2 linked regions of the Homo sapiens genome follow. The protein of the gene in region 1 purifies or fractionates together with the protein of each later gene. This does not show direct contact. Each region holds a gene or a part of one and is shown on either strand. Other genes may lie near its edges.

Evidence for each region.
Region 2: the proteins of TCN2 (region 1) and POGLUT1 purify together in Homo sapiens (affinity purification with mass spectrometry; one large-scale study listed by BioGRID and IntAct). This does not show direct contact.

The regions. Positions count from the first base shown.
Region 1 is NC_000022.11:30,624,165-30,628,080, forward strand, and holds the end of TCN2 (transcobalamin-2 isoform 1 precursor), read left to right. Parts: intron 1-2,295; coding exon 2,296-2,357; 3' UTR 2,358-3,107; downstream 3,108-3,916. UniProt on the Homo sapiens protein: Primary vitamin B12-binding and transport protein. Delivers cobalamin to cells.
Region 2 is NC_000003.12:119,485,887-119,489,704, forward strand, and holds part of POGLUT1 (protein O-glucosyltransferase 1 precursor), read left to right. Parts: intron 1-946; coding exon 947-1,046; intron 1,047-3,042; coding exon 3,043-3,101; intron 3,102-3,818. UniProt on the Homo sapiens protein: Dual specificity glycosyltransferase that catalyzes the transfer of glucose and xylose from UDP-glucose and UDP-xylose, respectively, to a serine residue found in the consensus sequence of C-X-S-X-P-C.

The sequences.
Region 1 (3,916 bases):
TCTGAGCTCAAGCAATTCTCCTGCCTCAGCCTCCCAAGTAGCTGGGATTACAGGTGTGTGCCACCATGCCCAGTTATTTTTGTATTTTTAGTAGAGACGGGGTTTCACCATGTTGGCCAGGCTGGTCTCAAACTCCTGACCTCAAGTGATCTGCCTGCCTCAGCCTCCCAAAGTGCTGGGATTACAGGCGTGAGCCACCACGCCTGGCCTGCAAACAGACCCTTAAAAGTCATCTGTTCCTACTCTTGTTATTTAAGTTGCTTTGATACTCCACCCCTGAAGAACTTTTATGGGGCACTTACCATGTGTCAAGCATTGTGGCGAGTGCTTATAGAGAAGGTGGGACTTTCTGAGGGAGCCCACAAAAAAGCATTCTTTTCTTGCCCTCATTCTGAATAAATTGAGGAATAAAAAATAGGAGCTACAGATGGAGACCCCAAGTCTGGCCAGTTCTATTACTGATAAAGACAGGAGGGTGAGAGCTAGGTGGACCCAGCCAGGAAGCAGACCTGGGCAGTTGTAGCCTCTATCTCCTTCCCCCTCTGCCCTTGAGTCTAGAAGGAAGCCCGCTCCCAGGAGAAAAATAGCGCCCAGGCTACACATGCCTAGTTTATTCTTCCCAAATCAACCAGTTGCATAAATCACTCCTCTATCTTCCTTGGGGTGGAAAGTGGATGGGAGTTATAATTTGAGTTCTCTTTTGTCTTAGTCCATTGAAGCTGCTATTACAAAATACCATAAACTGGGTGGCTTATAAACAGCAGAAATGAGGCCGGGTGCGGTGGCTCATGCCTATAATTCCAGCACTTTGGGAGGCCAAGGCAGGTGGATCACCTGAGATCAGTAGTTCAAGACTAGCCTGACCAACATGGTGAAACCCTGTCTCTACTAAAAATACAAAAAATTAGCTGGGGGTGGTGGCGGGCACCTGTAATCCCAGCTACTCAGGAGGCTGAGGCAGGAGAATCGCTTGAACCCAGGAGGCGGAGGTTGCCGTGAGCTGAGATCACGCCATTGCATTTCAGCCTGGGCAACAAGAGTGAAACTCCATCTCAAAATGAAATAAAATAACAGAAATGTATTTCTTAACAGTTCTGGAGGTTGGGTGGGCAGTCCCAGATCAGGACACTGACAGATTCAGTGTCTGATGGGGGCCCACTTTCTGGTGTTACCTGCTGGCTGTGTTCTCACATGGTGGAAGGAACATGGCAACTTTCTGGGGCCTTGTTTTTTAATTTAAAAAAAAAAAATATTTTCCTGGCCCTTGCCTGCTGAAGGAACCTCTTTTATAATGGTACTTAAAAATTTTTTTTTTTGAGATGGGGGTCTCACTCTGTCACCCACGCTGAGTGCAGTATCACAATCTCAGCTCACTGCAACCTCTGCCTCCCTGGCTTAAGCGATCCTCCCACCTCAGCCTCCTGAGTACGTGTGACCATAGGCCCATGGCACAAAGCCCAGCTAATTTTTTGTATTTTTAGTAGAAATGTGGTTTCACCATGTTGCATAGGCTGGTCTCGAACTTCTGAACTCAAGTGATCTGCCTGCCTTGGCCTCCCAAAGTGCTGGGATTCTAGGTATGAGCCACCCTGCTCGGCCTATAATGGCACTTTCCTATCCCATTGATGAGGCTCTACTCTCATGACCTAATCATCTCCCAAAGGCCCTAAGGCCTCCTGATACCATCACCTTTGGGGTTAGGTTTTAACATATACATTTTGGGGGGACACAGACATTTTAGACCATAGCACCTCCATTGAAAGGAAACATTTCTGACACCTGGCTATCTCAAAGGGCCCTTTCAGTTCCCCTGCAGGCTGCATTCCCACATCACCAACAAGAGCAGCGACACTCACTCAGAGGTTAAATAACTTGTCCAGAGTCACAGCAGTAATGAATGACAGAGCTGGGGCTTGAATCCAGGCGTCCTCCTAGAGCCTGGATTCTGTGTAGTGAGTGAAAGCTGACTCCTGGGAGACTTCTGCGTGGTCCTGGTTCTCTCTCCAGACTGCACTGCGCAAGTTTCTCTTCCTGATGGTCCCTAGGGTATTACAAAGACAGTGGCCCTGCCTGTCAGGTGTTTTTATTACCAGATGAGGTCATGGCCTCAGGAACCCTGTGGGAAGCTGAGTTCAGAGTCTTTGAGCAGGCTTTAGGGAGGTTCCAGCTTCCCACCACCAAGCCCCAGGTGGATTCTTACAGACTCTAGCCTCAGGGTGGGGGGTCTGGAAGATGAGGTTGCGGGGTGCGATATTCTGCCCAATTCGCCCCTCCTTGCTCAATCTGTTTCTGCAGGTATTGCTGACTACAGACCCAAGGATGGAGAAACCATTGAGCTGAGGCTGGTTAGCTGGTAGCCCCTGAGCTCCCTCATCCCAGCAGCCTCGCACACTCCCTAGGCTTCTACCCTCCCTCCTGATGTCCCTGGAACAGGAACTCGCCTGACCCTGCTGCCACCTCCTGTGCACTTTGAGCAATGCCCCCTGGGATCACCCCAGCCACAAGCCCTTCGAGGGCCCTATACCATGGCCCACCTTGGAGCAGAGAGCCAAGCATCTTCCCTGGGAAGTCTTTCTGGCCAAGTCTGGCCAGCCTGGCCCTGCAGGTCTCCCATGAAGGCCACCCCATGGTCTGATGGGCATGAAGCATCTCAGACTCCTTGGCAAAAAACGGAGTCCGCAGGCCGCAGGTGTTGTGAAGACCACTCGTTCTGTGGTTGGGGTCCTGCAAGAAGGCCTCCTCAGCCCGGGGGCTATGGCCCTGACCCCAGCTCTCCACTCTGCTGTTAGAGTGGCAGCTCCGAGCTGGTTGTGGCACAGTAGCTGGGGAGACCTCAGCAGGGCTGCTCAGTGCCTGCCTCTGACAAAATTAAAGCATTGATGGCCTGTGGACCTGCTACAGTGGCCTGGTGCCTCATACTCCTCAGGTGCAGGGGCAGGGACAAGAGAAGGGGGAAGTAACCCCATCAGGGAGGAGTGGAGGGTGCCTGAGCCGCCATGTGGGCATTGGGGGAGTGATGGGAATGCCAGCAGTGATGACATTGACTACTGACTGAGCACCCACTACTATGACTGAGCACTCACTCGCTAGATACTATCTTGAACTGCTCTGTGAGGTTGTTGATATTTTCATTTTTATCTGTGCTTTACAAATCAGGAAACTGGGAGGCCGGGCATGGTGGCTCACGCCTGTAATCCCAGCACTTTAGGAGGCCAAGGCAGGTGGATCACAAGGTCAGGAGTTTGAGATCAGCCTGGCCAACATGGTGAAACTCCATCTTTACTAAAAATACAAAAAATTAGCCAGGCATGGTGTTGCATGCCTGCATGCCTGTAATCCCAGTTACTTGGGAAGCTGAGGCAGGAGAATTGCTTGAACCCTGGAGGCGGAGGTTGTAGTGAGCCGAGATCACGCCATTGCACTCCAGCTTGGGCAAGAAGAGAAACACTCTCAAAAAAAAAAAAAAATCAGGAAACTGGTGCTCAAAAAGGAAAAGTGACTCACCAAGGTCACAGACTAGGCAGTGATGCTGGGGGAACCTGGCTCAGGGGACACAGACCTGGCCTGGGGCAGCCTTGCAGCTCCTCCACTAAAATACTGAAAATGAGGGGCTTCGATGATGGTTATAATCGTATGGCAGAGCCCCAACTCAACTGGAGCCCTGGGACCCAGAAGCTAGGGTCTCACTCCCTGCTTTTCCACAAGGCACCATTAGGGCATCACCCCAGGCCTCGGCAGCCACGACGCAGGGATCCTGCCTCTCATTGGTTGGGGGCTTAGGGGCTCTGGGCTGCCCTCTTGAAGAGGGGGTTCAGCCCAGCGAGGCACCCCCTATGCTGCACCCCACCAAGGTTAGGAAGAGGTCCTGTCCTCAGTGGGGCCCTCTGATGAACAGCCCATCAGGTCTGCGTCCACA
Region 2 (3,818 bases), on another chromosome or scaffold:
GTAGTAGGAGGACCCTGTGTTGTTCAGCTCCATAGTCCCAAGGCCAAGAACAGTTCCTAGCATGTCAATATATGATAAATATCTGTGGAGCAGATGAATAGAAAAGACCATGAAGGGAGCAGGGTTTTGTAGTTTTAGCAAGTGAGTCCTTGCCAGAGATTATACTCCCTCTTCACCCTCCTCTTCACTTCGGAGCTAGACTTTAGGAGGTAAATGGATTATCCAGCTACTATGTCCTGTTTCTTACCAACTTCTCTGATTCTTAAATCTTGAAGTCACAAATTAACTTGGGGACCATGTCTGGACTTCAAGAGTTTTAGGACTCCCTTGAAATTATGTGAGGATATGTGCATTTTTCTGGGAAGGAGAGAGGGTTGGTTCATAGTTCTTAACAGATTATCAAGGAATCCATGATGCCTCACATGTCAAGACCCTCTGCTACTTGGAACATCACTAGAAATTCTTCCACATACAGTCGTCAGGTTTTTAAGCCCTTTGGTTTTTGTGCATTTTTTTTAAATTAAATATTATACTGGGCTGTACAGAGCATACATAACAAAGGTCATGTAGCTGTTTTAGTGAGTCGTGACTACCTAGCCTCACAGTTATGAGCACCAGTGATTATAGAAGCCACATGAACTTTCCTAAAAGGGAAATCATTCCCTGGGATTTGACTATAGTGACCTGAACAACATACCCTTCAAGACCAAATGCAAGCAAAGAAGGGCCAAGTACCCCCCAACCCTAAAGGTACAGAGGGGACCAGCCCTGGATGACCTAGATGCTGCAGTACCCAGTATACCCCTCCTCCGCTGTCACGTCACCAGTGAATTGTCCACTTGTGCAGAGTCATTGCATTGGGTCCTAGTCCTGCTCACCTTTCAGGGATTGGGAACAGTTTTCTAATACAGGCCACACAGTTTTATGTCACGTGTTTCTTTTATAGGACAAGTCCAGAACGAGATCCTCTCATTCTTCTGTCTCGGAAAAACCCAAAACTTGTTGATGCAGAATACACCAAAAACCAGGCCTGGAAATCTATGAAAGTAATCACCAGTCATCTGACTAGAACTACAGCAGTGAACATTCTCACTCAAAGAACATTGCCACCTGGGTAGAATTTGAGATTAGGTTTCCTGTCAGTGGTGAGGTGAATGTAAAGAAAGTTCCATGAACCAGCATTAGCATATATGTAAATTCTCCTTTTTCAAACTTACATTGCTTTTCTGGCCATATTATGACTAGTATATTGCACTACTTTGAAGGTTTAAACCAGGGGTCACAAACTTTTTCCAGGAAGGGCCAAATAGTAAATGTTGTAGGTTTTGCAGGTCGTATGGTCTCTATTGCAGTTGCCAACAGACATGGGCAGTTTGTAAATGAATGAGCCTGGCAGTGTTTTTATTAAAACTTTATTACGGCCAGGCATGGTGGCTCATGCCTGTAATCCTAGCACTTTGGGAGGCGAGGCGGGTGGATCACTTGAGGTCAGGAGTTCAAGACCAGCCTGGCCAACATGGTGAAACCCCGTCTCTACTAAAAACACAAAAATTAGCCGGGCATGGTGGTATGTGCCGGTAGTCCCAGCTACTGGGGAGGCTGAGGCAGGAGAATCGCTTGAACCTGGGAGGCAGAGATTGCAGTGAGCCGAGATCACGCCATTGCACTCCAGCCTGGCGACAGAGCAAGACTCCGTCTCAAAAATAAGTAAATAAAAATAAAAATAATAAAAAATAAAAACTTTATGGGCACTGAAATTTGAATTTCATGTAATTTTAAGTTGTCATAAAATATTATTCTTTTGCCTTTTTTTTTAACCATTTGAAATGTAAAAATTTCTTAGTCCATGACAAAAACAAGCAGTGGGTCAAATTTGGCCTGTGGGTCGTAGTTTGCCAACCCCTGGTTTAAATCAATGGTCTCAACCCTGGCTGTGCAATACAACCAGAGAGCTTAAGAAAATGAATCAAATGAGTCAGAATCTCTGGGAATGGTGTCCAGGAATCTTCATTTGTTTAAAACTTTTCAAGTGATTCTAAGGTGAAGCCAGAAATGGGACCGTTGGTTTACAGTCCACTCTCTCCTCTTAACTCTATGGCTTTTTGCCTTAATCAAAGAAATTAAAGCCCTAAACTTCCTTTATATGAAATTTCCATATACCATATGAGGATGCTATGAGGAAAAGCTTTAGACTTCTTGGGAGAAAACTAAGTAAATCTGAGGTGCATGTATTATTTCATACAGTTTTAATCAGGAGCAAGTGAGCTTAAGAAACTTTGTTGAATAATAAAAATATGAAAAAATGTGTTCATTTAGAACAAAAGTTGTTAGCATCTACTGTGGGAGGCTGCAGAAGCAAACAAAACTTGTCCCCTCATCAAGGAGTTTACCATCTGCTAAGGTGGATGGAATGTACCTGGGGATGTCAAACTCAGATGTCCCCAGGGGCCAGCAGGTGATGTCAAGAGGTGAGCAAGAGAGAATACTAACAGTTCCAAATGTTAATAAGAGCCCAGTTTGCCAGATCTTCCTTTTTATTCTCCAAGAAAGACTGGAAATCTGGATTTTTGCAAGAAATATCCTACCACCTGTAAATGTTGGCAATGATTTGATTTAAAAAAAAAAATACTTTGCATGCCCAACAAAATTTGAGCATGGGCTATATACACCCCTAAGGCCATCAGCCAGCACTTGGGACCTTCTCTGCATACATTATTTACACAGAGTGAAGTGTGCTGCAGGCTGTGACATCTGAATTCAAAGGAGGGCAACATGGCTTTAGGTGTGCTTAAACTTTAAAATCAGACGGGCCCTGGTTAAAACTCTGTCTTCTATTTAGAGCCACACTGACCTTGAGCAAATCTCAACTTCCAAAGCCTTGGCTTCTGCATTTATATAATGGGAATAATAATGTCTCCTGAGTATATTGATTATGAAGCTTAAATGAGGTAATGTTGATGAAATGTTTAACAATGCTTGCTGCACAGTGATCACAATAAATGCTGTTGCTGTTAATACTAATAACTTCCTTTCCACTTAAAGGATACCTTAGGAAAGCCAGCTGCTAAGGATGTCCATCTTGTGGATCACTGCAAATACAAGTAAGATTTGCAGGACTCCTCACTTTCTTGGTTTCCATACTGCTTTTGAAATAGCTTCACTTTGGGTGAGAACTTTAATATAAAGGCCCAGCTGGAGTAAATGAAAGTTGCATTAATTCATTTCACTGGCTTTTCCTCAGGGCCTAAATGCACTGACCTGAGTTCTGTGGCGACTGTAGAGAAGAATGGAACATGGTTCCTGCTTCCAAACAGCTGCATGCTAGCTAGTAATCACAGTAATGGAATTACCTCTCCATATGCCCCACCCACCCAATCATTGAAGTTAGAATAAATATTTCTCAGTTAATAAATATTAGAATTATTATCCTGGTGTGCTGGCATGCTCCTGTAGTCTTAGCTACTCGGGAGGCTGAGGTAGGAGGATCCTTTGAGCCCAAGAGTTCAAGACCAGCCTGGGCTACATAGTGAGACCCTGTCTCTAAGAGAAATAAAATAAAATTCTGGGACTAAGAATTAGATGAACAGGTAAAACCAGGTCTAGAGGAGGGCAGTGGTGGTGGGGGTGGCTCAGAGTTAGGAGTGCTAATGACACGCAGAGTAGGAGCTATATGGTGAAAGCAACTCTGGTTGGCGACAGGTGCGTGCATAAGAAATGCTGAGAAGAAGACAGCTTTTTTTGTTTTTTTTTTTTCCCCTGTGGGCAATCTCTGAAAATTGATTAGGTTTTCCTCATTCTCCTCTCTACACCAGGGGTCC